5 linked regions of the Homo sapiens genome follow. The protein of the gene in region 1 interacts with the protein of each later gene in a biochemical or structural test. Each region holds a gene or a part of one and is shown on either strand. Other genes may lie near its edges.

Region 1 (6,430 bases):
TGAGTAGGGAAGAGGCAGAGAAAATGCGATAAGGGTATAGAATGACATAAAATCTGACTTCAGCTTAATCATTATTGAGTTCAGCCAGTTGACGAGGAATGAAGGAAAAACAATCTTTTTGGCATCTCCAAACTAATTAACTTCATAACAGCTTCCATAATTGCATTTCTATCTAATAATATTAACTTAAAGGAATGATATGTTTATGTGGCTTTAAAGCAGGGTTTTCCATCTTTGTTCTATGGGTCCCTTCAGGAGTGAAATGGAAGGACAGGGAGTAGATAGTCCGCAGGCCCTTCCACTGGCCTCTGCAACCAAAGCGGCTCTGTGGTTTTTGTTTCACCTGTTGGGGTTCTCATTAAGCTTTCTTTGAATGAAGGATTTTGTTTTATTAAATAAGTTTAATTGTTTTATTAAGTAAGTTTAAAAACCATTGCCTTTAATCGGATTCTGAGAGCTATGTTGAGAGAAGATAGTAAAATTTAATTCAACTAATATTTGAGTACTTACCATGTGCTAAGCCCTGAGGAGACTGTACTGCTACAGCTACACTGTCATTACTATTGCTTAGCAGGAAAAACAGATATTAAACAAGTAATTACAAGTGAGATGAACTTCATAAGAGGAAAAATACAGTGTTATGATGGCATAGAGCAAGGAGACTCAACCTGGTCTCTAGGGCAGTGGTTTCTAAACCTAACCAGAGTAATTCAGAGAGCATTCCTAGTCTCTACCCCTCCCTAGGACGCCTCAGAGATTTTGATCTGCCCAGATTGAAATCTCCAAGCACTGTAGGGGGTGGGGGGCAGGGGGCAACCAGGGAAGGTGTCATAGAGACATTCCTGAGAAGTTACTTAAAGGTCTAGGGTAGCCAGACTAGACGGTGAGGCGGAGGATGGGGCCGGAGCAGCCTGGGCCCTGAGGAAAGCTGTATAGAAAGGCTGAGAGTGGAGGGGAGGTAAAGTGTGTTCAGGGAATTGACCAAAGCCCAGTCTCTAGACTTGGAGGGAGAGGGTGTCTCAGTATGTACATATTTCTAATATAGCATTTATCATTCTGTTTTGTATTGACTGCACCTCCCAGCCGTCAGTCTTTAGTGACCAAAGCCATATTTTGTTTACGCATGAAGCTGTAGCATCTAGTACCTAGTAGGAACTCAAGAAATAGTTGATGATCCAGTGAACAAAGTCTCTGCATATAGGGGCTTAGTTCAGAGTAAGAAATGGAAAAGAATATTAATAATTGTGAAGTAGGATAGTAACAACTTTTTTTTGGCCAGGCATGCTGATTCCCGCCTGTAATCTCAGCACTTTGGAAGGCTGAGGTAGGAGGATTGCCCGAGACCAGCCTGGGCAAGACAGGGGGACCCCAGCTCTACAAAAAATTTAAAAATTAGCCAGGCATGGTGGTGCATGCCTGTGGTCTCAGCTATTGGGGAGGCCAAGGTGGGAGGACTGCATGAGCTTGGGAGGTTGAGGCTTCAGTGAGTGAGCTGTGTTCGTACCACTGCCCTCCGGCCTGGAGGGCTTTTTTTTTTTTTTTTAGACGTAGTTTCGCTCTTGTTGCCCAGGCTGGAGTGCAACAGCACGATCTCAGCTCACTGCAGCCTCCACTTCCTGGGTTTAAGCGATTCTCCTGCCTCAGCCTCCCTAGTAGCTGGGATTATAGGCATGTGCCATCACACCAGGCTAATTTTGTATTTTTAGTAGAGATGGGGTTTCACTATGCTGGTCAGGCTGGTTTCAAACTCCTGACCTCAGGTGATCCACCTGCCTCGGCCTCCCAAAGTGCTGGGATTACAGGCCTAAGCCACCGTGCCTGGTTTTGTTTGTTTGTTTGTTTGTTTTATTGAGATAGTCTCTCTCTGAAGCCCAGGCTGGAGTGCAATGGCACGACCTCAGCTCACTGCAACCTCCACCTCCTGGGTGCAAGCGATTCTCCTGCCTCAGCCTCCCGAGTAGCTGGGATTACAGGCGTCCGCCACCATGCCTGGCTAATTTTTGTATTTTTAGTAGAGACAGGGTTTCACCATGTTGGCCAGGCTAGTCTCGAACTCTTGACCTCAGGTGATCCACTCGCCTCGGTCTCCCAAAGTGCTAGGATTACAGGCATGAGCCACCACGCCTGGCCTCAAATGCAATTTTATGCAAAAGTCTTGATACATACCAAACCATTGTGGTTATATACATGTAGGGGTTCCTTCTCAGTTAATCTCTCTCCCCATAACATTCCAACCTGTGCCTCTACACATTTTACTTTTATTATTACCTCTTCCTATTCATATCTACCTGGGGAGTTTCTACTGTTATTTCTTTCACATTCAGTACCTGACTCCTTTTCTCTTCCATTTGCTCTAAAGTTAGATGCCCAGCCTGTCCTCCCAGCATCTGGTGCATACCTCTCTTTTGAGCTACATCAGTGGTTGCAAACCCAGTTTTGAGAAGCCTTTTCCCTAACTCAGCCATCCCACTGCAGTATCCTGACATGTTTTAGCACCAAAAGCTTGAAATGAGAGGGGTTGGGATCCAGAGTGCATATCAAAGGATTGAATTTTGAGAGCCAATAGAAGACAGAGGGTGCAGATACAGATAGGATTGTAGATTGTGATAGGCATCTGAGCAGCTCCTGCTAGCAGTCATTCATCAGGGAGATAAAAAGCTGGGTGCCATTAACTGAAAGAGAGGAGAAATTAGACTAGGTGGGAAATAATCTTGGAGTGCTAGGTGGAAAGAGTAGGCTGGAAGGCCTACTAGAGAAATGTGGGGACATTAGGTGGCATTGTATCCCAGTAGAGGTTGTTGGTAATGACTTGTAATGGCATTACTGCACCATCCTCTCTGACTTTTTTTCCTCCTTTCAGTGATGCTCAGCTGTTTGGGTATAGACAGCAAATAAGATGGTTGGGTTGGGTCAGGCACAGTTGGATTTTATTAAGGGAGTGTACAAGAGGGACTCCTAAGAGCCAAGGGTGTGGATAAAGAGGAAAATGAATATAAGTATAGGAGGGGTGAAGAAAGTTGTGGGGTCAGTGGACTGGAGGTTTTAGTGAAGCTGAAGGATCATTTCAAGAAGGAATTTCATCGGGGCTTTGGAGAGTCAGTGAATTCAGGGGACAGTCCATTCATTTAATGCAAGATAGTGGATGGAAAGTCCCAAGAGTTGGAGGATATAGAGGTGTTTCCTGTTCACCGAGCATGAGATCCAGAGAATACATTTTTTGTTAATAAAGACATTTTAACAGGTAGAGCCAAATTGCCTGTGTTGGAATCCCATCTCTGTCATTTACTAGCTGTGTGACTATATAATCTCTCCGTGTCTCGGCTTCTTCATCTGGAAAATGGGGATAAAAATAATACCTATCTAGTAATGTTGTATTAAGGGTTAAATGAGTTATTAATGTCTGTAAAAGCACTTCAATAAATACCACCATATAGGAAGTATATATAAGTACTTATTAAATAAAAATAGTGTCTTCACTATATATTTAATATATAACTCTTTTAAAGTGTTAATGCCTAGCAACTGTTTCCTTCCTCTCCCCCTCTATTTATTCCCATAATCTTATAATTAAACCTTTGCCATATGCTCATTTGCACTAGTTCTCTACACATTTTTTCATTAGGCTCGTAAGACTGTGCTAATCATTCAGAAAAGTATATTTTAAATATCTCTATTTTATGAATTTTATTTTAGCTGTTAAACGTTTAATGAAAGAAGCGGCAGAATTGAAAGATCCAACAGATCATTACCATGCGCAGCCTTTAGAGGTTAGTTTCTATCTCCATGTTCTTCATATGGATTTTAATATTTAAAACAAATTTTTTAAAATTGCTTTTCATTGCTTTGAGTCATTACAGATGTGTGTGATGTAGTTTGACGTTTTATTCACCATATTTCATGAATATTTCATTAGCCATTCCAAATCACTTTAGAAGAAACGGATTTTGTGGTCTTTATAAAATGGGTCTCAGATGCTAAGTTGAGGTTAGATCTTTTTTTTTTTTTTTTTTTTTTTGAGGCGGAGTCTCACTGTGTTGCCCAGGCTGGAGTGCAGTGATGTGATCTCGGCTCACTGCAACCTCTACCTCCCAGGTTCAAGCAATTCTCCTGCCTCAGCCTCCTGAATAGCTGGGATTACAGGCCCCCACCACCACGCCCGGCTAATTTTTGTATTTTTAGTAGAGACAGGGTTTCACCATGTTGGTCAGGCTGGTCTCAAACTCCTGACCTCGTGATCCACCCGCCTTGGCCTCCCAAAGTGCTGGGATTACAGGCGTGAGCCACTGCACCCGGCCGAGGTTAGATCTTGAGTCTGAGGGAGGGGAGGTGGAAAGAACCCCAGATACTTTACAGTTTGGAAGCCTTTTGATGGGTCTCCGTAGCTACTCAAGGCTTTTTGTATAAACATCTCGGCCTCTCTCAGTCTTCTCATTTGTAAAAGGAGGGTATTTAAATATACCCAGGCAGGTTTTCATGGTAACAGTGGGAATAAAAATATCATAACTTAAGTGCAAGTATTTTGTAAACTGAAAAGTACATGGTAACTGTAAGATGACATTAAATACATTAGTATTACCATTTTATAAATAAGCTCTTAGGCATCTATAAGGGATAATTTTTAAAGATTTGTTAAAATAACCCAAACATAGTAATTTTTTGATTATATAATTATCATAATTTGCTATTCTTTCAAGGATTAATTTCCAATTTAAACCTGTAAGTTACTTATGAATATATAACAACACTCAGAAATTTTTAATGTGTTTATTATAAAATATTTTAGCTCAATGGAACATGAAAGCTAGATTAAATAGCTTTTACTTATAAATTTAATTTATCACTTATAGTCTCGAGACATCTCATGCATTAGAAACTATACTAGCAATAATATAAAGCATTTAATTTTTCTTGCTTGGTAATATTTCTAATATTCAGATAAAATGATCAAACTTTTCAATATTATTAATTCCTTGTGGATTATTGTTTTTGTTCAGGATAACCTTTTTGAATGGCACTTCACGGTTAGAGGGCCCCCAGACTCCGATTTTGATGGAGGAGTTTATCACGGGCGGATAGTACTGCCACCAGAGTATCCCATGAAACCACCAAGCATTATTCTCCTAACGGTAAGAATTTTGGATTTTTAGAGTGCTTGTGGCTTCACTCTTCCTGGTAGCTGCAAAATATAGTAAGCAAATCATTTTCATTAAGAAATAATAGAACAGTATAATTTTGCTTTTGGGGTCCAGGCCCTGGGACTACAATTTTTTTCCTCCAAAATAATTCCTAGGAAGCTGATGCATCTGAGAAGTAAAAATGATACAACTGAATGCATAAATGTCATATCATGGTTGTTAGGATTCAATGAATTAATATATGCCAAGTGCTGGGCATACACATCTGGCACTTCATAAGTACTCACTAAAGGGTAGCTAATGTTATTGTACCTTGTAATCATATTGTCTCCTTTAACTTCCCACCTTTCTTACACTCTCTTCCTCAGTTTTCTCATCTTTACAATGAGAATAATGATACCTACCTCATTGAGTTTATGTGGGATGAAAAGTATCAAGATCTTATTGTATAGCTCTTAGAATAGAGCCTGACACAGAATACTCAATAAGTGTTAGCATTATTATTACTGTTTATATCTCAGATTTTCTCTCTTTCTCTCCAAATTTACACATCTTTTCTTCATGTGAAGGAAAACTTTTTTTTTTTTTTAAGAGACACGGTCTTTCTCTGTTGCCCAGGCTGGAGCGCAGTAGCACGATCATAGCTCACTGTAGCCTCAAACTCCTGGGCTCAAGCTATCCTCCCACCTCAGCCTCCTGAGTAGCTGGGACTATAGGCACATGCCACTGCACCCAGCTAATTAAAAAGTTTTTTGGTAGAGACATGGTCTCATTGGTCTTGAACTACTGGCCTCAGGCAGTCCTCCCATCTCAGCCTCCCAAAGTGCTAGGATGACAGGTGTCACCATCATACCTGGCCAAGGAAAACTATTGATCTAATTCCTCTTTAATTGTTAAGCTTTTCTTCTCTCATTTCCTTTAACTATGTTTAATTATCCCCTAACCTTGAAAAAAGCAAAAACAAACACAAAAACCATTCCCTGTATCTGTTATCACTTTAAGCTGTGCCTATTTTTCTCTTTGGTAACCTCCAAGGCATCCTTTCCGTAGTTTGGCCTGCTGCAGTCCACCTTCCACACATAGTGCCCTGTTGAAACATGAAACTACACCAATCTCAGAGACCAGTTTGAGAAATCTCACTGCTTCTCCTCAGCCTTCATCCTGTTCTCAGTTAAACATCTTACCCACACGGAGTAGCAAATGGTGAAACAACAGGTATTCATCAATAAATACCAAATTAGGCCGGGCGCGGTGGCTCACGCCTGTAATCCCAGCACTTTGGGAGGCCGAGGCGG
Region 2 (6,430 bases), on another chromosome or scaffold:
GCTTTGCTGGGATACATATTCTTGTCTGGTAGTTTTGTCTTTCAGCACTTTGAATATATCATCCAACTCTCTCCTGGCCTACAAGGTTTTTGCAGAGAAATCCACTTGTGGTCTTATAGGGTTTCTCTTGTAGAAGATGAGTTTCTTTTCTGTTACAGTTTTAAAATTCTCTTTCATCTTCTATTTTTGCCAGTTCATTATAATGTGTGTCAGTGAAGTCTTCTTTGGGTTGAATCTTTATGGGGTCCTATGAACTTCCTGTACCTGGATATCTTTCCCTAGATTTATGAAGTTTTCAGCATTTTTTTTTTAAATCAGCTTTCTGTCCTTTCTCTCTTTTCCTTCTTGAATTCTCGGGTTTGTTTTTCATTTTCTTGGGTTTTTTTTTTTGATGGTGTCTTGTTCTGTCACCCAGGCTGGAGTGCAGTGGCATGATCTCAGCTCACTGCAACCTCCACCTCCCAGGTTCAAGTGATTCTCCTGCCTCAGCCTCCCACGTAGCTGGGACTACAGGTGTGCACCACCATGCCCAGCTAATTTTTGTATTTTTAGTAGAGACGGGGTTTTGCCATGTTGGCCAGGCTGGTCTTGAACCCCTGACTTCATGTGATCCACCCGCCTCAACCTCCCAAAGTGCTGGATTACAGGTGTGAGCCATCGTGCCTGGCCTTGAATTCTTAAAATGCAAATATTGTTTTGCTTGATGGTGTCCTATAATTCAGGTAGGCTTTCTCCACTATTCTTTTTTTTTTCTTTTTTTCTCCTCTGACTAGATAATTTCACATGATCTGCCTTTGAGTTCACAGGTTCTTCTGCTTGATCAGGTCTGCTATTGATGCTCTCTATTGCATTTTTTGTTGTTATGTTCTTCAGCTCCCGAATTTGTTTCTTTTTATTATTCCTATCTCTGTGTTGAATTTCTCATTTGTTTGTATATATTTTTTTATTTCATTATCTGTGTTCTTTTGTAGCTCACTGAGTTTGCTTGAAACAATTATTTTGAATTCTTTATCTGTTAGTTCATAGATCTCCATTTCTTTGTGGGTGATTACTGGAAAATTACTGAGTTTCTTTGCTAATGTCACGTTTCTTTTTTTTTTTTTCTTTCTGTTTCTTGTGGCCTTGTGTTATCTGTGTATTTGATGGACGAATTACTTCTAGACATTACAGATTAGTGTGTTTTTTTTGTTTTTTTTTTTGTGGGCAAAGATCTTTGCCTGTGGGTGAGGGTGAGGGTGAGGGCGCCAGCCAGTAGGTGTGGTGGTTCTGGCTCTGTGGAAGGCCCAGCATTGTGAACTCCATGCAGCTCCATTAGCCCAGATCATTGTCAGTGAGGATTGCAGGGGTCCTCAACATCCAAGGCTGCAGGTATCCATACCAGCAGCAAGGCTTTTTTTAGTCTATAGTGGCAGAGGCTGCTGGGGACCTCTTCATCACTTTTTCTCCCATGGGAGACATTGTGGCCAAGGGGATTCTTCTTGGCACAGGTTCTGGCTTTGGGCTTGTTGTGTTGGTGGAGGTGGCAGCACTGATGTCTCTGATGGCGTGGACACCTGTGGAGCAGCTACAGAGCCAAGGTTTGGAGTGCAAGTGTTTGCAGAAAGACAGCGGGTCTTGGGTTCAGGATGTTGACTAGCCTGCAGCAGTGGTGCTTCTAGTGCCTCAGATGTGGGTGCACGTAGAGCAGCCTTTGAGTTGGGTGCGGAGTGCAGGTGTGCAGAGCAGCCAGAGAGCTGGGATCTGGAGAGTGTGTGATTAGAGCAGCCACAGAGCAAAGGTCTTACATGAAGGTACATGTGAAGCAGCTGTGGCTCTGGGGTCTGGGGCATATGTGGGGGTTAGGGGCTGCACTGTCTGGGCAGTGCAAGAGCTGCTTTTTTTCAGGGTGAGGAGTGCAGTAGTGTCTCCCTCTCCAGGGGGTTCACAGCAGCAATGGGTGCTGGTTACCTTAATGGTGAAAGCTGTCAGTGTCCTCTGCAAAGTAGGCTACTGGGGTTGGCATCAATGAACACTATAGGGTCCTTCACTGTGAAACCTGCAGGAAGTCTGTGGCTATCTTGAGGGTTATTGGAGGTCTCCAGGGACCTGCTCTGGGGAGGAGCCTAGCAGTCTTTGCCACTGAGGACTGTAATGGCACTCACCACATGACTGATACAGGTAGCCCTCACCCCTTGTTCTTAGCCATCTCCAGATGTCTCTGCTAAGCAGATCTCCCAGCAGTCCTTTCTGTGTGGTTATTCTCCCTTTTTTTTTTTTTTCCCTTTATTGCTGTAGGCTGATTGGGCTAGTGAGTTCTTCCAGAGCTGTATTTGTGTATAGCTGTCTGTTTGTTGTTTTTTGTGGGTGGAAGAAGGCTGATGTCTCCTAGTCTGCTGTCTTGCTGATGTCACTCTTGCAAACTTTCAGTCTGCGGCTTTTCATTTCTTTAACATTGTCTTTTGAAGAGCAGATGTTTTCAATTTTGATGATGTCAATTTATCAATTTTATCTTTTGTGGAATATGTTTTTGGTCTTTTGTCTAATAATTCTTTACCCAATGTAAAGACAAATAAAGACAAGGCTTTTTCCTAGAAGTTTTATTGTTTTTGGTTTTATATTTAGGTATATGATCCATTTTTACTATTTTTGCATATAATATGGGCATAGGTCAGTGTTCCTTTTTTTTAACATATGAATATTCTGTTGTATAGTATCATTTATTGAAGAAACAAAAGGAATAGAATAGATATAGATGGTATGTGAACTTCTTGGAACATCTTTGAGAAGCCCTATCAGTTTAAAAACAAATATTTGAGAAACACTGTCATATTATATATAGATAAAAATATTTGATTCCATATTTTTTGGAGGGAAGGTAGTGGATTCTGGCTCAAATGTAATGGAAGAGTGAACATTGAAGAAAAATGAGCAGTTATTGTATTGTGAAAGATCACATTTTAGGAATACTGAGTTAATAGTATCTGAAACTGTTAAGTAGTTCACTTTAAGCACAAAATAGATTGTGTATAATAGTGTTCTTCAGGAGTCAACTTGTTCCCCTTTGTAGGTGCAGACGCTTTTCTTTTTGTTGTTGTGTTAATGGATTGAATTAGAAAATACCGTGATATATAACACACAGAAGGATGTATATTGTTTTATGATAATTTTGTTCCTGTTAGATATGTATGTGTTCTGGGTTGTGACGTAAAATGTTTTTACTATGGAGTACAATGAAAGATTTGAAAGCCATTTTTCTAGAATGATCAGGTTATATTTGATATGAAACAATTTTAAAAAATAATTTTCCTCATATGTTTTAGGTGTGAGTTCTTGATACGAATGAAAGGCCAAGAGTTTGTTGATGAGATTCAAGGTAGATATCCTCATCTTCTTGAACAGGTAAATACATTTTTAAAATTAACAACATTGAATTCTGCTTTATAATAACAAAAATATTATTAGGTTGGTATAAAAGTGATCATGATTTTTGCCATTGAAAGTCATGGCCAAAACCGTGATCACTTTTGTACCAACCTATATTAGAAGTTATGCTTATTTCTCTTTTATTAATTGTAGGTACATACTTTCATCCATGTTAATGACATCTTTGGTTTTTACTTTTGTAACCAACTTGATTTTTGAGGGCTTTTTAAAAAAGATTGTTTTTTTGTTTTTACTATTTTGAAAAATCATTTATGCTGCCACTGTACAAATTTGTGATGGGATTGGAGAAGGATCTTTAGTGTCTCTTTGCTGTTTTCCAGAAAAACAAACAAAAAATAACTTGTTAGGAGCTGAGACCCTTGGAGAGTAACCCAGTTAAAATCTTATTTTCCAAATGAAATGAGAAACCACTGATACATTTTTCTACTTTCCTGAAACTAGAGAAATACTTGATTTCTAATTTGGGATGACATGAAATTTAAGGAAATCTATGTGATTAGGGTAAAAGAAAGCAAAGCAAAGGTCATAAATCACTCAGTTCTCAAAAGAACATATACATTTACTTAAAGTAAGCTTATTTTAGTGTTGTTCTTTTCAGATTGTTGGGGATATCTGCTTTTACCTATTAACTTTTCTCTTGTTTCATAGCTGTTGTCAACTTCAGATACCACTGGAGAAGAAAATGCTGACCCACCAAGTATGTATGAGATAATTTTAAGTATAGAGTGTAAATTTTTATAAGAATTTTAGGAATAGGCTGGGTGCAGTGGCTCATGCCTGTAATCCCAACACTTTGAGAGGCCGAGGTTGACAGATCACCTGAGGTCAGGAGTTCGAGACCAGCCTGGCCAACATAGTAAAACTCCATCTACTAAAAATACAAAACTTAGCCGGGTGTGATGTGCCTGTAGTCTCAGCTACTCGGGAGGCTGAGGCAGGAGAATTGCTTGAACCCAGGAGGTGGAGGTTGCAGTGAACTGAGATTATGCCATTGCACTCCATCCTGGGCAACAGAGCGAAACTCCATCTCCAAAAAAAAAGGTAGGAATGAAAGTATGTATTTTTTAAAAGAGTTTCTGAAGCCATAGGGAAAAATACTGGGAAGTCAGCTAATAAATATTATATATATATATATATATATATATATATATATATACACACACACACAGAGAGAGAGAGAGAGAGAGAGAGAGAGAGTGTAATGACACTGTGGAGGACCCTAAAAGTGTACTAGTTTTTGTTCTAGTGCTATACTTATCACTTTTAGTGCTGACATTCCAACTGGAGAAATGAGACATAAGCAAAAGAAAAACAAAAAATAGTTCAAAGCAATGCCAAATAAGCGGTGCAAATAATAAACCCTCCAGAAAAGAAGAGTTTGCTGTGAGTTGGCATGATTTGGAAAACGTCAATTCACATATGATTCAAGAATTGGACTAGATGTTAGGTATTTAAGTCAGGTATGTTGTATTTCAGTGCAAGGGCAGGAAATAGTATAGCTTTTGATTAGAGCTTAATGTTAGCCACATCTGTCAATTTATGTAATATACATATGTTATTGTGTCTAAAATGGCTAAGGTAGTAATCCCGTTTTATGTGCCAATCACATCTACAAAGGGCCATTCTGTTTGTGGCACAGCATTTCAAGAAAGATTGGCAGATTTGTTAACTGGACCAGAGAAAGGTGACCAAGATGTATGAGTCTTAGAAACCATGGCTCAGGAGGATTGGATGAAGGATTTGGTAGTATTTGACTGGAAAATAGGAAGGAGAGTACTGGAAAATAGGAAGGAGAGTACCTGGGTACATGACAACTATCTCCCGTGTAATAGACCTAGAAAAGATAGATAGCAGTGTGGGCTGTTCTTAAAATTTATAACCACTGCTATTAAGTAGGCTGCCCTGCAGTTCTACCATAGGTCCTAATAAAATCACTTTGTCAATCTTTAAAATGACTGTTTCTTGTTTTCTGTCTTGATAATTTTCTAACACTCTCTTCCCACCTTACTGTCAGTTTATAATCTTGCTTCCCTAAGAAAATAGAATCCAAAAGAGAGCTGCTTTATTGCCTCACCAGCAAAACCACTAGGCTACATAATTTATCCTTGTACTTTTCTGTTTGTTCATAAAAGATGAATTGTCCTTGCCCTTTTCTAAGGCCATTACTTCTACTTGTCCTCTGTATTCCATCCCCTACTGTCAACTTAAGAAGGTTACTTTGGCAGTGACATACCCTTTCTCTCGAGTCTTCAATTTTTCCACCTCTCCTGAATCACTCATGTTAGCATATAAACATAATGTACTTTTGCTAATCCTAGGAAAATTTCCATGAATGAATGTCCCCATTCAGCTATTACCTTATTACTCTGCTTCCCTTTACAACAAAATACCTAGGAAGATTTATCTGTGCTTAACTCTGTTTTACTTCCTCACCTTTCATTCTTTCACTTGTTCTGCTAGAAACTGTTCTTGTCATGGTAACCAGGGACTGCCGTGTTAGCAAATCCACTACTTGACCTGTTAATTAGCATTTGATAATCACTGGGTGCTTTGTCGTTGTTTTTTCTTTTTGTGAAACAAGGTCTCACTTTGTCACCCAGGCTGTAGTGTGGTTAGGTGCCATCATGGCTCACTGCAGCCTTAACTTCCCTGGCTCAGGTGATTCTCTCACCTCAGCCTCCCAAGTAGCTGGGACTACAGGCATGCACCATCACATTCAGCTAAGTGTGTGTGTGTGTGTGTGTGTGTGTGTTTGTAGATACAGGGTTTCACCATGTTGCCCAGGCTGGTCTCAAACTCTTGAGCTTAAGCAATCTGCCTGCCTCGGCCTCCCATAGTGCTGGGATTGCAGGCATGAGCCACTGCATTTGGCCTCATCTTTCTTAAGACACATTTTTTGCTTGACTTATCAGACCCCATACTCTTGGTTTTCTATTTCCCTGGTTGGTCCTGAACAATTTCCTTTGTTGGCTGCTCCTTTTTCAAACTTCAAAATGTTGGAGTACCC
Region 3 (6,430 bases), on another chromosome or scaffold:
GCCGGAGGACGAAAGTGGAGGAGTCGGCAGGGGGACAGTCAGTAGATCTCCTGTTCAGCCCCTCCCCTCAGAGAGACTTCACCTTTGCTTCTGGTTCAAAAGAATCTTCATGGAGATGAGCCAGAGAGAAGGCATCAACAGTACAGCTCCCTCAGCTCCCTCATATGCTCTGAAACAGAAAAGGCTCCCATCGGGTGGCCACTAGCTTCCGCCTCTGGCCACCACTCTTCACCTCTAAGATGAGTCCTGGATGGACACTGGCCACAGAGATGCTTGGAAACGTCCCTCAAGAATAAGATGCCCTTTCATATGACCCTTTTGGAGGGCTCAGGTTCCCAGCAGAATGAGCGCACAGCTTGGCTGGTCTTGGAGGAGAACACCAGATACAAATATGGGCTGACCTTGGGGCCTTGTCCCAGCTCATTCTGGCACACAGAGGTGTTTACTGATCAGACAATAAAGACCCCAAGAACCTTTCACTGCCAGAGGCCCAGCCCAACTTTATGTCTCCTTCTACTGTGGCTTTCTTCCTCCTCCCACCAAACCTGATGGCCCAGCACACAGGACCCCACAGTCTAAACCTCCGGGGCTGAAACAGCTGCTCTAGCCTTGCATGGGCAGGAAGAGGAGGAAAGAGAACAGACATCACCAGGCAACCCCTTTTCCTCCTGCTTCCTTGGATTCCTGATATCTCTTCTTACTCAGCCTGGTCTGAGGGGCTGAGGGTCACCTGAATGTAAATCCTAATTTCCTCATCAGCTCTGTGAATCAGTCCCCAACTCTAACCTAAGAACAACCCCTAATCCATAACCATACCTTTGGTGAATTAGAAGGCACTCCTTTGAAAGAACCCAGCCACACACAAAGACAAAGCCAAGCAAGGAGACAGTGGCTGGACTTCAGCCTTCGCTTAGCTCCTCAACCAGATCCCTGTGCACAGGGAACAGCCTGCACCAGAAATCACAGTGGCCCTCAAATGCCCCATAACTTGAGAAAGGAATCTCAAACAGGGAATAGAGTTCCTCATCTCTACTTTGCACCACCACTACACTATGATTCTTCTGATTTTAAGGAAAGAGAAGATGCACACCCTGCTAAATTACGTAGTCTATCCTCTCTGCCGAGTCACCAGCATAGAACACTTTCTAAGTCTTCACACAAGAGAAGGAGCAGCTGGTCAGTGATGATTATTCATTAACTGGACACAGGCTGCCCTGGAGCCAGGCACTAAGCTTACGAAAGGGCATCTGTGCTGACCCAGATACTGCTGATGGTCAGACCCGGAGCAAGTCAGCAAGCTATCCTGCCTGCCCTCCACCTCTGGCCTGCAGCACCGCCTTCTACTGCCTCACCCTGCCGGTGCTCAGGAGCTGCTCGAGCCGACCCTCTGTGCAATGAGGCCTGGAAAGTTTAGCTGACCTATTCAAGGTCATGTAACTTGTTAGCAGCATACAAACACTGGAAGCTTTCTATTTATGTATGCACTTATTTTTGCTTTCTTATCTAGCACATAACCCATGGTAACAAGCTCATCTCTACATATCTATATCTGTGTATGTGTGTATATATATATATATATATATATCTTAAAATACAAAATACCAGTATTTTCCTAAAAACTAGAAAAGGTACACAGCAATCTGATTTGGGTTCTATAACTGCCATACGTTATTACACTGTCCAGTGACATGGCCCCTTCTCTTCACCAATGCCCCCATTTACAAGGTAACCCATGTGGAAAGATCCTAGCTGATGCGTTAGTGGAGCTCAGTTTTGCTCCACCAGGTCTACAGTCTTCTAGCAACCAAAAACCAAAGGGGCCCAGACCAAGAGCAGGTCCCAGGGAACCAGGTCTCAAGATGTGGCTCGGATGCTGACACCATGTAAGACCTTGGACATGCCACTGAACATTTCTGCACTAGGCCAGCTTCTTCCTCAGTGATGTGCAAGGAGTCAAGAAAGATGACCAGGGAGTGTGGGTTCTAAGTTACTATGAAGTGTGGGTTGCTTTGCCACTGGGCCTCAAACCATTACCAAGAAAAGCTGCAGTCCCTGCAAAGAACAACTCTTCTCTGCCCATCCACCTCCCTCCAGGACACAGAACCATCTGGAAAGATACAGTGCAGGGAAGAGGGGGAAAAGAGACCTCACATGACACTTGGCAGGGCCTGAAGTAGAGGAAAGGTAGGAGAATAGAGTGAATCCTGCACCACAGACATCACGCCACCAGGAAGAACCCCAGCTCAGAGCATGGCAAGGCTGCTTGGGAACTGGGCAATGGCTCAGATGCAGACGACTGTGCCCTGCTCTTCCCCATCTTGGCTGACATTCCTCCTGGCACCCACTCAGCACACTCCTGGGCTCTGGCTAACAGGAGCTTTGGCCCCTCCCCTAGCCCAAGGATTAAGTTTGCCTCCAGCAGTTCTGAGGCTGGGCTCTTCCAGGCCCTCCTCCCAATCCCCTGTACCTGCTTCATAAGAAAAATCATCAATTATGGATGGCCCAACCTCTCAGGTCCCAAGTAGCAGAAACATCACAGGTCCCAATACCTTCCTCCTCCCACAAAGGGGTTCTTTTGTTTCCTAGACACCCACCAATATTTGGCCCTAAGGCCCAGGGACTGCTTGTCTCTCCCCTCCTGTCAGCCACTGATCCCGTATCTTAGCTGGAGATTGTCTCCAAGCTCAGTCAAAGCCCAGAATTCACAAGTAAAAAAGGACAGTGAGCTGACCCAGCTTCAATCTTGCCTCAGTGGATGCCAAGGGCCCTGCTGCAGGAGCCAGGGGTCAGGGCTGGGGTCAGGGCTACGGCCAGGAGGGACAGGATCTCTGAAACCACAAACCTGACCCTTCCCTCATAATTCTGTAAGCCCATCTTCAATGATTCCTAACCTTTTTTGACACCTTCATGCCCCTCAAACACTTTAAAGCCTGCTTTGACACAAGATGAGTTAGCTTCAATTTGGAGCCACCAACCCCTGACCACTCTGACCTCCTGTTCCTCCCCTCAGTTCTAGCCAGGCCAATGTCACCACACCTCTCACAGACTTGCTCACTCCTCAGAGGCACAGCCATGTCCCACTGACCCCAGCTGGAGCCTCCCTTAGCTCCTGGAGTCACCACAGATTCCCCTCTTTCAAAGCTCCTCTATTCCCAGCCACACGATTTAGCTCCCAGACCAACAAAGTCTAGGAGAACGTTCTGCAAGGATGAAAATGTTCTTCTGCATTGTTCAATTCGATAGCCATTAGCCACATGTTTACTGAACACTTGAAGTGTGGCTAGCAACTGATTTTTCAAATTTAATTTAGTTTAATCCATTCATGTTAATTAATTTTAATTTAATTAGCTATGTGAGGGTAGTGGCTACCAGATTGGACAGTGCAGCCCTAGCCTACATGTGTTAATTTCACCTTCTCTAAATAAGTTTCTTGACTCAAAATTTTACAGGCCATTTTTTACATGTGTATCCTCCATGCAACTAAGCTTATGATAGATATTCAGCAAACTGTTACCTACCTGTAACCATATTGCATATAAAAGAGGCTGGCTTGGTCAATGAAATTTTCCTAACCTTGTGACAACTCCAGCAAACTCCAGTTTGGGACACTGCCTCTCACCTAGCCACACTAACTGTCTTGCCCTCCACAGGTACACAGTATGAGGTGTGTTGGAAAGGAGATGGTGCCTGTACTGTGGGGATGTGGGAGCTCTGGCATTTCCCTCCAACAGCATCCAGAATAATCATGAGAGGCTCCAATCATCTCCCCTTCACCAGAACAAAGGAAGCCACATCGCAGTGGCACTTCCATGACCTAGGGAGAGAGGAATGCTGGAGAAAGGAAAGGAAAAGAAACTACAGGACCTTGTTTTCTCTAATCCACGCAATGGAAAGATACACAGAGATAAGTTACGACAACATTCTATATTTTATAAAGCAGTAACATGCTTCACCTAATCAGAGTTGCACAGCAGAGAACAACGATACAGTCTTTAATTAAATTTGTTGAGCTAACACCTAAGGGTCACCATGACACAGTGAAGCGGCAAGCAGCTGAGGAACCCTCCCGGGGAATACAACTAATTAATACACAAGTGGGTTGAGACTAGGTGTCCTTATCAAAGAAGTAATACAGGCCGGGCGCGGTAGCTCACACCTGTAATCCCAGCACTTAGGCAGGCTGAGGCAGGCAGATCACGAGGTCAGGAGATCAAGACCATCCTGAATAACACAGTGAAACCCCATCTCTACTAAAAATACAAAAAATTAGCCGGGCATGGTGACGGGCGCCTGTAGTCCCAGCTACTCAGGAGGCTGAGGCAGAATGGCGTGGACCTGGGAAGCAGAGCTTGCAGTGAGCCAAGATCGTGCTACTGCACTCTAACCTGGGCGACAGAGCAACACTCTGTCTCAAAAAAAATAAAAATAAAAATAATAGAATTCCCATGTTCTTGTACAAAAAATAGTAAGTAAGGTGCCTATCAAATACTCTCTTAAAAGGGGGAGGGAGTGGTTAAAAAAATGCATGAAGCTACTGTTGAAGTTCCCCTCCAACTTTGGGGACTGTTCTCAGGAGCAGCAAATACCCATCCAGCCCCCTTCGCTGACCTCCCCTCTTGTCAGTCAGGGCCTGAGGTGACAGAACAGCTCCTCAGGCTGGAAGCACCCTGGAGCAGCAGGTGGCCATGTGCCTGAGCCCGTGGCTCAGTTAGGAAGTAAGTGGGAAGAAGCCTGAGACTGGGAGTCAGGCAACCTGGGTTCCAATCCTGCCTCTGCCAAGTGAATGGCTATGGTACCTTGAACAAGTCACTCCCTCACTCTGGGCCTTGGTTTTCTCTTCTGCAAAATAAGGGGGCTGGACAAAATGACCTTTCAAGTCCCTTGCAACTCTGACTGGAAGCATGACTCAGAACTTAGCAAAAGCAGCCAGGAGAGATGGTGAGGTGAGGTCAAAGCACCCACCAAAAGCATTTAAATGGGAGCTCTCTGAGGTGGAGGGAGAGAAGCAGCAGGGTGAGCTGGGACTCTTTTTCAAATGCTGATTTCACTTAACAGGGCTAAGAGGTCACCGACTATAGGCAGAGAGGAGAGCATCTAAGCAGCTGCCAGCTCCCATCAACTCTCAGGGCTGCAACATAGCAGACTTCTGAACCCCAGCAGAGGCTGGGCTCCTGCCCTCCAGCTCTGCCCTAGCCCCCAGCATTGGCCTCGGCACACTGTAGAATAGAGGTCTCCTCCCCTTTTCTCAGGCACCTTCCCAAGGGGGTAATCCCTCTTGCCCCACTCCATCTTCCTCTCCTGCTTTATAATCACTAGACTTCTGGTTTTGAAAACCATTTCACTACTCAGCACCTGAGGTTAATCAAAATTCAAGATCTAGAAATCTCTTTGGTGTGTGTCTCTGGAACAGCGTTCTTTGAACCAGATTCCCCCCACAGCTGTAATTATGTCTCAGCCAATATTTGGATATGGAAGTGCTGTTAACACTGCTGTCAGTCTCCAAATGCCTTGTCTCTCCTTTCTTCCTCCATTATTAAGTTTTAACACAAAGACGTGTGTGGGAAATCCACAATTTAACAGTTGAGTCAACTTAAAAGATCTGGGAGCAGGCTGCCTGTCAAAACAGACTGACTTCACTCTTCGCCCACTTCTAACCTGAGAGGGATAAACTATGAGTGTTATTTAACACGCTGCTGGATTTTTCCTTCCAAAACTATTCAAAGTAGAAAAATATGTAAACCTCTCTCTCGTTAGTTACAAGAGAAATCTGAATTGCCACTCAAAAGCATTTTATAGGATGATTTTGTGCGTGTGTCTATTAAACAGAATACAGAGCAGAAGTTGGGAGCTTTTGTTCTGAAGTCTTTACATAATATTCCAAATATCCAAGAGAATGAACAGCCAGTGTCCCCAAACTACTAATGGGTGAAGGCAGATGGTGTCTCAGAGGGGACAGCAAACACTCCTGTAAAGACCGTCTGTCACTTCCTCAATGATACAGGTTAACTGTGGTCAAACTGTATTCACCCAACTCCAGTCCCCAAGGTCAGAGCCATGCTCAATCCAAACAACTCCTCCTCCTCCTTTCCCTTCAGTTATGAGTAGGGAAAGAGAAGTCTAAGACACAAATGTTGAAGTGTTGAAGATACTTATCCCCTCTCCAACAGTCAACACTAAACAACAACCGAGATCCCAGAGCAATAACTTACAGTAGAAAGCAAAGCACTGTAACAGGGTTGAGTATGAGAGCAGCAGGAAAACAATTCTAGAGGCCTTAAAATCTAGAAATGGAACATGCTTGCCCCGTACAACCCCGAAGTACTGGTGTTTCTTTTAAAACATCTGATCGTATATTCCAATAGTTCCACCCATACCACATTTCTGAGTTTTGTACTTGACAACTGAAATACAGCTCGCTGTGGGGGCTGAA
Region 4 (5,066 bases), on another chromosome or scaffold:
TGGATGGGTGTTTGTTAATTAAAAAGTCCAGGCCGGAAAGAGGTGCTCTGGAAGCTGAGAGTTGTCCCTGGAGTATCCCAGGTTGCCAGGGCACTGCAGCTAAATCCTGATGGAGGAGTAGGAGCTCACCCTGGTGGGGAAGGATGGACATTCAGGCAGAGAGCAAAATCCCAAAGATCATGGCGGAGCAGGCGTCGTCTTGAGAATTGGAAGCAGGTGGGTGTGGTAGGAGTGAGCTCAGACTTTGGCTGGAGACAGAGTTTTACTCCAGTGTCTCACAGGGCATGGCAGACAGACAGCAGCGGGTGTTTGTCAAATAAATGAGTCAGCTCTTCTCCAAACTCCCTCCTCCCAGCTACCTCTTCACCTTTCCTGGTATAGTCCAGGGGTTCATTTTCGACCCCCACAGAGTCTGATACACAGTAGGTGCTATGTGTTTGTGAAAGAGGCTGACCCAGCAAAGCCTGGATGTGTTTGCCTTGAGGACTGCCTGAGTCCTCCACACCAGCCCTCCATTTTTTCCCCTTCACCCCAATGCTGGGCCTGAGCCTCCATCTCTCCACAGGTGGTGGTGCTCACCAACACCCCCCTGGAGGACCAGCTGCGAGTGGGTGAGTTCTGTCACAACCGTGGCATCAAGCTGGTGGTGGCAGACACGCGGGGCCTGTTTGGGTGAGTGGCAGCCCACCTCCCTCCCTGTCCCCTTTTCCCCCAACTCCTACCAAGCCCAGGCCAAGACTCTAGGCTCTCCCTGCCCTCATCCCTTCTCAGCTACCCAGGTTTTGGGTTCTGTGTTTTCATCTCTCCCCATGTGGCACAAGTACCATCTTACATCCCAGCAGTGATAGGCTGAGTTTGCTCAGCAAGTTTTCACTACATCTTGAGGGACCCGTGGGACCTGTATGTGCATGGGACACAGGCACCAGCCCTATTGCTTCCCTCTACAGGCAGCTCTTCTGTGACTTTGGAGAGGAAATGATCCTCACAGATTCCAATGGGGAGCAGCCACTCAGTGCTATGGTTTCTATGGTTACCAAGGTAAGGAGACCAGCCCTAGGGTTCCTGGCAGGCAGGTGGGCTGCAGTAGTCCTTCCTGTCTGCTCTTGGTACCCTGGGCCTGTTTCTGAGACTCACTCTTCCTTTAACCAGGACAACCCCGGTGTGGTTACCTGCCTGGATGAGGCCCGACACGGGTTTGAGAGCGGGGACTTTGTCTCCTTTTCAGAAGTACAGGGCATGGTTGAACTCAACGGAAATCAGCCCATGGAGATCAAAGTCCTGGGTGAGCTGCGACCATGGGGGAAGCAGAGGGGAACTAGAAGATATGTTCCTGGGTTCTGGCCGGGGAGTTGAAGGGAGAAGACATGGCCCTTGGTTCAGAGTTGGGAAGACACATCCTGGTGTTTGAGATGAACTACAGACAATCCTGTGGGGTCCAATAAGAGCTGGTGGGCATGGGGGAGAGGTACTGTGTTTGAGCTATTCCTGGGAGAATGTGTCCCTGGTATCTGAGCTGAGTGGGGAAAAAGTCTCTGGTGTTTGAACAGGGCAGATCAGCGGATCTACTTGTGTGTGAGCTGATTTGGATGGGAAGCAGAGAAGGTCTTCCCGTGTAGACTTGGAGCCAGGGACACAGGGTCTCACGGGGTCTGAGCTGAGTCTGGGGCACAGGAGAGATGGTTTCTGATGTCCAAGTGGAGCCTGGAGCTGAGGGAAGACAGCTTCTGATGTCTGAGCTGAGTCGGGGCAGGAGGTTCCTTATCTTGCAGGGGTTGTGGATTTTAGGGAGAATGGGTAGACTGACAGCTCTCTTCCTGCCCTCTGTAGGTCCTTATACCTTTAGCATCTGTGACACCTCCAACTTCTCCGACTACATCCGTGGAGGCATCGTCAGTCAGGTCAAAGTACCTAAGAAGATTAGCTTTGTGAGTGTGTCGATGGGATCAGTGGGCTGTGGGGGGTGGTTCTAGGCATTCCCTAGTTCTCCATTCCTCTCTTCTGGTTCTGATGACCTCTCCCCCCGCCACAGAAATCCTTGGTGGCCTCACTGGCAGAACCTGACTTTGTGGTGACGGACTTCGCCAAGTTTTCTCGCCCTGCCCAGCTGCACATTGGCTTCCAGGCCCTGCACCAGTTCTGTGCTCAGCATGGCCGGCCACCTCGGCCCCGCAATGAGGTGGGTGAGTGGGCGAGCCAGCCAGCGCAGACATGCCTGGCACTGCAGGCTCACCATGCCTCTCTGCGTGTCCACACTCCCTGCCCTCACTGTGGCCTGACATATCCTCTCTTGGTTCTTTCTGGCCCACCAGGAGGATGCAGCAGAACTGGTAGCCTTAGCACAGGCTGTGAATGCTCGAGCCCTGCCAGCAGTGCAGCAAAATAACCTGGACGAGGACCTCATCCGGAAGCTGGCATATGTGGCTGCTGGGGATCTGGCACCCATAAACGCCTTCATTGGGGGCCTGGCTGCCCAGGAAGTCATGAAGGTCAGCACGGGTGGGGAGAGGCAGGATTGGGGTGGGCCAGGTTCCTCCATGACTCTGTCACTTGCTCTCTGTCTGTGTCAGGCCCCTGTTAACCACTGACCACCCCCTCTCTCCCTTCCCCTCTCCAGGCCTGCTCCGGGAAGTTCATGCCCATCATGCAGTGGCTATACTTTGATGCCCTTGAGTGTCTCCCTGAGGACAAAGAGGTCCTCACAGAGGACAAGTGCCTCCAGGTATGTGGGTGGGACCTGTGGGGAGGGCATCATTGGGGACATTTCTGGGGAGGCCTCTCTAACCCTCCTCCCTTTGCATTCCTTAGCGCCAGAACCGTTATGACGGGCAAGTGGCTGTGTTTGGCTCAGACCTGCAAGAGAAGCTGGGCAAGCAGAAGTATTTCCTGGTAAGTGGTCCCCTTGGATGTCTGCTCCCCTCATCTTGGCCTCTGGCCATCACCCCTGGGGCTTCCTTCGGCATCTCAATGCAACCGGTGGCGCATTCTCTTTGCCATTCTCCTTATCTTGAAGGGAAGCCCAGTGCATCCCTCGTTTCCCCTTCTGGTGCCTCCTTCCTCACATGACTGCGTGTCATTTCTTAGAGTCCTGCAACCTGAAGATGTGGTGTTAGCCCCTCTCCCCGTCTCTCAGGGGAGTGAGGGGTGATGGGTAGCTTCACACTAACCTGCATCACCCTGACCAGCCTCTGCCTGTCTTCTTGGTTGCTTCTTAGGTGGGTGCGGGGGCCATTGGCTGTGAGCTGCTCAAGAACTTTGCCATGATTGGGCTGGGCTGCGGGGAGGGTGGAGAAATCATCGTTACAGACATGGACACCATTGAGAAGTCAAATCTGAATCGACAGTTTCTTTTCCGGCCCTGGGATGTCACGGTGAGTAGGGTAGGAGGTTGGGGCTTTGTCGTCTCACTTTCCTCCTTTTTCTTTTTTTTTTTTTTTTTGAGACGGAGTTTCGCTCTTGTTGCCCAGGCTGTAGTGCAGTGGCGTGATCTCTGGCCCACCACAACCTCTGCCTCCTGGGTTCAAGCGATTCTCCTGCCTCAGCCTCCTGAGTAGCTGGGACTACAGGCATGCGCCACCACGCCCGGCTGATTTTGCATTTTAAGTAGAGACAGGGTTTCTCCATGTTGGTCAGGCTGGTCTCGAATTCCCGACCTCAGGTGATCTGCCTGCTTCAGCCTCCCAAAGTGTTGGTATTACAGGCGTGAGCCACCACACCTCACCCCTCCTTTTTCTTGTTCCCATTCTTTCTGTCAGAGATCTTTCTGCCTCTGCCAGAAGCCCTTCTTTTTGGCCTTTCTTTCCCTCAGCTTCTGTTTTTTTTTTTTTTTTTTTTTTTTTTTTGCCTTAACCTCTTTTTAGTGCTGGTTGGGACAGTGTGTCTGGGGTCCTCAAAACTACTCTCAAGCTCAATTCACCTAGAGTACTTACAGGACTCAGCATATAGTCGTGCTTGTGGCTACAATTTATTACAGCAAAAGGATACAGACCAAAATCAGCAAAGGGAAAAGGCTGGTGCAAGTTTCTAGGAGTCTTCTCCCAGCGGGAGTTAAACAAGGCGGCCTTTATTTCCCCAGTAGCAACAGTAACTACAGAAATAACAGCAACAAGGTGTAACAAGACATGAAATGTTGCCAACCAGGGAAGCTTGTTAGACTCAGCACCACCTCTTTTACTTGGGGCTGGTCATGTAGGCGCCCCCTTCCTGGCACATAACAAAATTTCCAGACTCCCAGAAGGAAAGGTGTTCAGCGTAAACTGTATTGTTTGCATGAACGGTTTAGGCACAGTGAACCACTGATACCAGGTAGGGAGCGGTGGGAACCTTCCTGAATTCCAAGTTCCCAGACACCAGCCAAGGAGCCGACCTTGGAAGCAGGCCTTTCCAAGGGTTGTAGTTTCAGTCTCCTAGGCTTACACTTCTCTGCACATATGGAAACTGGGTTGGTTATGCAGGGTTCTCTGAGAAGCTTTCTGTAAGGAGCAGTGTCGTTTTTGCTTACCCAGGATTTATTCCCCCTTTCATTTATTTCATTTATTCACCAGATAGTTTTAGTACTGTTTTAGGTATTGGGGATATACCAAGGAATAAAACAAGATTCCTGGAGGGAGAGGGGAACGGACAGCAAACAATAGACACAATACGATCGTGAGGTATATAGTTAATGTTGGTGATGAGTGCTCCTCAAAGGAAACAACTAAAACCAGACAAGGGAAGTCGGGGTGTCAGGGAGAATGGTTTGTAGTATTGATGACAATGGTTAAGGAAGGCCTGAGTTCTGCAAAGACCTCAAGGATATGAGGGACTAGAGTGCCCTCTGCTGTGGAAGAGCCTGCGCAAAGATCCTGAGGTGGGAGGGGTCAGGGAGCCAACTCATTTTACGGTAAGTGGAGGTGGGATCCAGGGGAGGATTCTGAGCAGAGGAGGGACGTGGCCCAATTTGGGCTTTGAAAGGATCCTGCTTGTCTGTGTGCCAGCATCCTGGTGGTGGTTGGGGGAGTCTGCATCAATCCTGGGTGCTGTTACCTGAAAAAATAGCAGGTGTTAGACGAAAGAACAGATGTCTGGCC
Region 5 (6,430 bases), on another chromosome or scaffold:
AGGCTGGTCTCGAACTAGTGGACTCAAGCAATCTGCCCACCTTGGCCTCCTAAAGTGTTGGGATCACAGGTGTGAGCCACCAAGCCCAGCCATACTCTTTACCCATAAATTCCTCTTTTAGGAATTACTGCTCCAGATACAGCTACACATTTACACAAAGCTTCATGTATAAGGATGTTTCTCCCTTCACATTGCTTGCATCAGTGAAAAACTGGAAACACAAATGTCCACCAATAGGGACTGACTTTGTTTTTTGAGATGGAGTTTCGCTCTTGTTGGAGTGCGATGGTGCGATCTCAGCCCACCACAATCTCCGCCTCCTGGGTTCAAGTATTCTCCTGCCTCAGCCTCCCAAGTAGCTGGGATTACAGGTATGTGCCCCCACGCCCAGCTGATTTTGCATTTTTAGTAGAGACGGGGTTTCTCCATGTTGGCCAGGCTGGCCTTGAACACCCAACCTCAGGTGATCCGCCTGCCTCGGCCTCCCAAAGTGCTGGGATTACAGGCGTGAGCCACCGTGCCTGGCCAGGGACTGACTTTTTAAAAAATATAAAAAATGTTAAAAACATGCAAACAAATAAAAAAAGAAAAGAAAAAAGTTAAGGTACATTTACATAAAGAAATACTCTGCAACCATTAGAAATGAGGTAGTTTGTTATTTGTGGAAATGGAAAATCTCCAAAATGTACAAAATGAAAAAAAAAAAAAAGGTGAATTACTGTATAGGATACTCACTTTTATGTTAACAAAAATATATATATACACACAACCATGTAAATACCGGGACATATAAGAGATAGTCAGAAAATCTCCTAAGAAGCTGTCCTGTTGCTGATGGCTAGCTCCAGCAAGCCGGAGCAGGGGCCTACAGTGGGAAATTCATATTCTGTGGTATACCCTTTCAACCATTTAAATTTTTAAAAGTTTACCAGGTCATGTTTTATTTATATAACAATAAAATCTAATCAGGATAGCCATAAATGCTATATCAGAATTAATCACTGTGAAATAAACCAGTGAAATATGATAAGTGGATACAAGTCTAGCCCAAAGCTACCTGACATTAGGTAGTCCATGGAGCCTCATTAGGATGTAATTCTGGAAATATTTAAGAGTTCATAGATTATCACATTTTCTACTTTCACAGACCGTAGAAGGTTGGGAAACCTGCCGGGCACGGTGGCTCACACCTGTAATCCCAGCACTTTGGGAGACCGAGGCAGGCAGATCAGTTGAGATCAGGAGTTCAAGACCAGCCTGGCCAACATGGTGAAACCCAATCTCTACGAAAAATACAAAAATTAGCTGTGCATGGTGGCACACACTTGTAATCCCAGCCACTTGCTAGGCTGAGGTGGGAGGATCGCTTGAATCTGGGAGGTGGACGTTGCAGTGAGCCAAGATAGCACCACTGCACTCCAGCCTGGGCAACAAAGCGAGACTCCGTCTCAAAAAAAAAAAAAAAAAAAAAAAGGTTGGGAAACCCTAGGCTGCAAATGTCTAATGTTGGCTAATCCTTTGTGCATTTTCCATATAGATAAGTCCTAGCTTAAGTAACCAAAAACTAGTTTTAAAAAAAACAAGGCATGTATCATGTCTCCATCCCCCAAGACCACGCTCCTTTCAGCCTGAGGCAAGTCAAAAAGCCCCGTCAAAACAACCAAAGATACCTACTTTTGGAATTCCCACTCTCTGTTGTCCAATGGACACACCTGTCGTGTTTTGAGCCAGCGAGAGATGCAGTGGAAGTGAAAAGCATGCTGAAAGAAAACATATATTTTATTAAAAATAACTCTATGCAGGCTCAGCCATCGAGCGACAACAGGTCCCACAGGGTAGTGGCATGGGTGACATATAGTGGGCAAGAAAAGAAAAGAAGACAACGAGAGGCAAAAGTTCAACAACTGATTATATCTTGGTTAGATGCAAGGGTATTTCCAACAAAGCATTTGTTAGAAATGTCATTACTACTAAAGGAAATCATTCAGGAAGCACAGGAGTATGTGCCAGCACTGAGCTCTCTTCTATTTAAGAGAACGTGGAATGTGGCTCCTTGGTCCCATTCAGCCTGTAAGGGGATACTTCCACTTTCTTTGGGAAAGGAGGCCCCTCATCAATGCAGATTTCAAATATCCCCATTCTGGGTCTCTAGCTTCCCTCCCACCCTCCTGCCCCTGGAGAATGCGACCTGTAGGAGCAGAGCCTTCTCCCCAGCCCTTGGTAGAGAAGTGCATGGTCACTGCCGCCCACCCAGAACTGAGACGGGCACTTCCCCAACCTCCCCACACCCAGCTCAGCTCTGGTCAAAGAAACTTTATTTCTAGATTTATTCACAGACATATTGATATTACAAGAGCTCAGTACTTCACGTGCCTTTAATGGGTGAGGGACTTTGTCTTAGGGAATGAGATAAAAGAAAATTGGGGTAAAAGGAAGTATTCTTATGAGGGACAAACGGCACACAAGCAGCCTAAAGAGCATCAAAAGGCTTATTTCATAATCAAGACAAGAAGTAAAAAGACAAGAGTATCAAGAACACTGGTAACTGACAGGGAGCTAGAAGTCTGCTTAGATTTGGGAAAAGGACAATCTGCATGCAGTTTTTTGGCGTGGGCTCATGACATGCAGATGCTAATCACAATGCTTCTGCAATGAGCACTTCTCCCCCTGCTCATGTGCGTATTAGGACAGACGCAGCAAGTGCTTCCTTCATTTCGTCTGTGATTGGTGCACTGTGGTGGGGCACGGGCAGAAATTACTCACCCTAACAAAACAACAAAAGCTTTACAAGCTTCATTTAATAACAACTGAAATCTGGTCGGTACGTCTCCCAAAGTATGTATGGAACTTAAGGGATTATATAATATGGATTATTATCTTGTGAAATGTTTTTTGACAAAGACAAAAATATAATTCAGTAACTAAGAGTGGAATCCACAGCTAGTACACTAGGGATACCCAAGAGGACAAATATTCTCTTAGAGTGACAGCCTTTTGGAAGATCCCTTTTCAGCTGACTCTTGTATAACTCACTGTGAAAAAGAGAAAGAGCAAAATTTCCAAAAGGCAGAAAGCAGAGACATTTTTCTTAACCATCAGGTGTTGGGGTCGGGCTCACCGAAGGGTATTCGACAGCTTCTCCCTCTCCCACCTCACCCACTGAGCACTTTGCAGCAGTACGGTGTCCTGGTAGAGCCCAACTAAGTCAGAGCATACCACGCGCTGGGGAAAAGGGGGCTGTAAAGGAGGTGTCAGGGAGGTGACAGCACCCCTGAACATTTACTAAGATGTATTAATGGATATATTTAGCGGTCAAAGTACAATTTACAGAAGATAAATTTATAGTACTTGACAGTTTACAGAAGATGTTGACATGTATTACCTCATTTGAGGCCTCACATCAACCCTGGCAGGCAAGCATGACAGATATTTTTATCTTCATTTTACAGACAGGAAACTGAAACCCAGACAAGTGACTTGCCTAATTCATGGAGCTGGTTTGTAGAAGACCCAGAACTAGAACCCAGGACTAATCCAGAGCCTTCTGCCACACCATGCTGGCTCTCTTCTACGGCAGGCTCTCTCAGAGAATCTCTCCTTAGCCAAATTTAAGGGGATGTTCACTCTCTTTTCTTTCCACATAAAGGAACATGGTTCTTAGTATATGTCTGTATGCCAGAAAGGGCAAAGAGCCCAATATACTTCCTTTATCCCCATGAACGATTAAAGCTCCCCCATGGCCAACATGGTCTATTGTGAGCCTGGCCAAAGGGTCCCAACAAAGATGGAAGAAGGTGTACCCGAAAGTGCGGGTAGGGGCTGGGCACGGTGGCTCACGCCTGTAATCCCAGCACTTTGGGAGGCCGAGGCTGGCAGATCGCCCCAAGGTCAGGAGTTTAAGACCAGCCTGGCCAACATGGCGAAACCCCATCTCTACTAAAAATACAAAAATTAGCTGGGTGTGGTGGTACACACCTGTAATCCCAGCTACTCGGAAGGCTGAAGCAGGACAATCACTTGAACCCAGGAGATAAAGGTTGCAGTAAGCCGGGACTGCGTCACTGCGCTCCAGCCTGGGCCACATAGTGAGACTCCGTCTCAAAAAAAAAACAAAAAACAAAAAACAAAAAAAAAAACAAAAAACCAGTGTAGGTAGGAAAAAGAGTTGCAACCCAACAGGAAAAACTACTGAGAACACCATCTACACAGTAACACCTCTACCTCAAATTTGTATTTATTTAGATTTTTTTTTTTTTGAGACAGAGTCTCACTTTGTCACCCAGGCTGGAGTGCAGTGGTGTGGTCTCGGCTCACTACAAGCTCCACCTCCCAGGTTCACGCCATTCTCCTGCCTCAGCCTCCCGAGTAGCTGGGACTACAGGCGCCTGCCACCACACCCGGCTAATTTTTTGTATTTTTAGTAGAGACGGGGTTTCACTGTGTTAGCCAGGATGTCTCCATCTGCTGACCTCATGATGCACCCGCCTCGGCCTCCCAGAGTGCTGGGATTACAGGCGTGAGCCACCGCGTCCGGCCTATTTAGATTTTTTTTAACAAGCACTTGTGCTTACTATGTGCCGGGAGTTGTTTAATCACATTTTAACATAAATCATCTAATCCGGATTACAATTTTATGTGGTCCACTATCAGCCCCATTTTATGAGGGAACCCAGGATTGGAGACGTTAAATGCCTTGCCTAACGTCACTTAGCAAGTAAGTCACAAAGACAGGGAATGGTGGTCTGACTCTAGAATCTCTTATCCCTGTGTCATGCTGGGAACTGTGAGTATTCTGTCCCCATGACACAGGAGGCCCTGACAAGACAATTTTAGCTCATGTGACTGGGACTTTACAGCTTAAAGAATGAATTTTTAACACATGCTAGAACTAACATATTTGATATTTGTTATCCTTCACAGCTGTCACACTCTTGGAAGGCCATTCAGTCCAATAAAGCTACACAAAACATTTCTGGCATAAGCCATGTTAAAAAATAATCTTATCTCAGTACATACGCCACACTTAAAACACACATACACAGAGACTTCAACACTCAATTTACTCATCAAACTTAGTTCCATTAGACACCTGGTCTTTAAAAAAGCCTGTTTCAAAGGTACAAAGTTCTACCACGAGAATATTCCAAAGGGTGCATGTAGGTTTTGAAGGCAATTCCCATAGATGAAGCCCCAAAATACTGCTAACAAAATTGGGTCCACTTTATAATTAAGACAAATAAGTGCCTCTTTGCAGTAACTGTAATTTTTACCCTGTAACAGGTGAATAGTATTATGATTTAAAATCTTTTTTACTATTTGTATACCTTTTGGGAGAAAGGTGGACTAGTCATTTTTTTCCCTAGTTATTTTCAAGACTAGCAAAGCAGGAAAAGTGGAAATATGTTTACAAGCCATGCTGACAGGTAAAGATGCTTCCTTACGTTACAGACTCCCCATGCGACAGTACACTCTTCTGAAGTAGCGGACGCCTGGTTAGCTTGACATTCTATGCCTGTGGGAACAAGAGCAACAGGATCACTGGACCTTGGGAGCAGCAACGTTTCAATCTATAGCAGCCAAAACAATTCTCAAGTGGTTAATTAGCCATAATTGTTTTTTAATGAATGTGGGAAAGGAAGAACAGAGAAGACAGAGATAACAGTATGCTTTCTGACGATTTCCTATCCTTGTTTAAAAAGAGTAACAAATGGGAAATGCACATCTCACTCCCGTTGCCCAGGCTACAGTGCAGTGGCATGAGCATGGCTCACTGCAGCCTTGACTTCCTGGGCTTAGGTGATTCTCCCTCAGCCTCCTGAGTAGCTGGGACTACAGGTGCGTGCCACCACACCAGCTAATTGTTTGTATTTTTTGTAGAGATGGAGTTTCACCATGTTGCCTAGACTGAGTTTTTTTCCTTTTGAGATGGAGTTTCCCTCTTGTTGCCCAGGCTGAAGTGCAATAGCACAATCTTGGCTCACTGCAACCTCCGCCCCCCGAGTTCAAGCGATTCTCGTGTCTCAGACTCCCAAGTAGCTGGAATTAACAGGCGCACACCACCATGCCTGGCTAATTTTGTATTTTTAGTAGAGATGGGGTTTCTCCGTGTTGGCCAGGCTGGTCTCAAACTCCTGACCTCAGGTGATCCGCCCACCTCAGCCTCCCAAAGTGCTGGGATTACAGGCATGAGCCACCGCACCTGGCCTGCAATGAGTTCTTGACTGAGATCAAGATCTGATGGGTAAAGCACAACTGGGGATAAATATTCACAGAACAAGAATTACTAATGCATAACTTGCTTTCTCTGATCATAGTAACTAAATGGAGTCTCCCTTCTGAAGAATAAAAAGCTTCAGGAGAAACTATTTAATAGGGGAGAATTACTTCAAACTACTACAGGTGAAAAATAGTAAAACTATGGCTGGGCGTG

Evidence for each region.
Region 2: the proteins of UBE2J1 (region 1) and BIRC2 form a complex in vitro, tested with the Homo sapiens proteins (one study listed by BioGRID).
Region 3: of the proteins of UBE2J1 (region 1) and MAPKAPK2, one has a biochemical effect on the other in vitro, tested with the Homo sapiens proteins (one study listed by BioGRID).
Region 4: the proteins of UBE2J1 (region 1) and UBA1 form a complex in vitro, tested with the Homo sapiens proteins (2 studies listed by BioGRID, with this or other methods).
Region 5: the proteins of UBE2J1 (region 1) and RBX1 form a complex in vitro, tested with the Homo sapiens proteins (one study listed by BioGRID).

The regions. Positions count from the first base shown.
Region 1 is NC_000006.12:89,341,020-89,347,449, reverse strand, and holds part of UBE2J1 (ubiquitin-conjugating enzyme E2 J1), read left to right. Parts: intron 1-3,693; coding exon 3,694-3,767; intron 3,768-4,994; coding exon 4,995-5,126; intron 5,127-6,430. UniProt on the Homo sapiens protein: Catalyzes the covalent attachment of ubiquitin to other proteins. Functions in the selective degradation of misfolded membrane proteins from the endoplasmic reticulum (ERAD) and is essential for cells to recover from ER stress.
Region 2 is NC_000011.10:102,359,597-102,366,026, forward strand, and holds part of BIRC2 (baculoviral IAP repeat-containing protein 2), read left to right. Parts: intron 1-3,299; coding exon 3,300-3,378; intron 3,379-4,071; coding exon 4,072-4,120; intron 4,121-6,430. UniProt on the Homo sapiens protein: Multi-functional protein which regulates not only caspases and apoptosis, but also modulates inflammatory signaling and immunity, mitogenic kinase signaling, and cell proliferation, as well as cell invasion and metastasis.
Region 3 is NC_000001.11:206,686,638-206,693,067, reverse strand, and holds part of MAPKAPK2 (MAP kinase-activated protein kinase 2), read right to left. Parts: intron 1-6,430. UniProt on the Homo sapiens protein: Stress-activated serine/threonine-protein kinase involved in cytokine production, endocytosis, reorganization of the cytoskeleton, cell migration, cell cycle control, chromatin remodeling, DNA damage response and transcriptional regulation.
Region 4 is NC_000023.11:47,200,329-47,205,394, forward strand, and holds part of UBA1 (ubiquitin-like modifier-activating enzyme 1), read left to right. Parts: intron 1-565; coding exon 566-672; intron 673-947; coding exon 948-1,038; intron 1,039-1,149; coding exon 1,150-1,282; intron 1,283-1,827; coding exon 1,828-1,925; intron 1,926-2,029; coding exon 2,030-2,176; intron 2,177-2,309; coding exon 2,310-2,486; intron 2,487-2,614; coding exon 2,615-2,719; intron 2,720-2,805; coding exon 2,806-2,886; intron 2,887-3,212; coding exon 3,213-3,368; intron 3,369-3,939; exon of another isoform or gene 3,940-5,066. UniProt on the Homo sapiens protein: Catalyzes the first step in ubiquitin conjugation to mark cellular proteins for degradation through the ubiquitin-proteasome system.
Region 5 is NC_000022.11:40,963,129-40,969,558, reverse strand, and holds part of RBX1 (E3 ubiquitin-protein ligase RBX1), read right to left. Parts: intron 5,513-6,430; coding exon 5,442-5,512; intron 1,761-5,441; coding exon 1,675-1,760; intron 1-1,674. UniProt on the Homo sapiens protein: E3 ubiquitin ligase component of multiple cullin-RING-based E3 ubiquitin-protein ligase (CRLs) complexes which mediate the ubiquitination and subsequent proteasomal degradation of target proteins, including proteins involved in cell cycle progression, signal transduction, transcription and transcription-coupled nucleotide excision repair.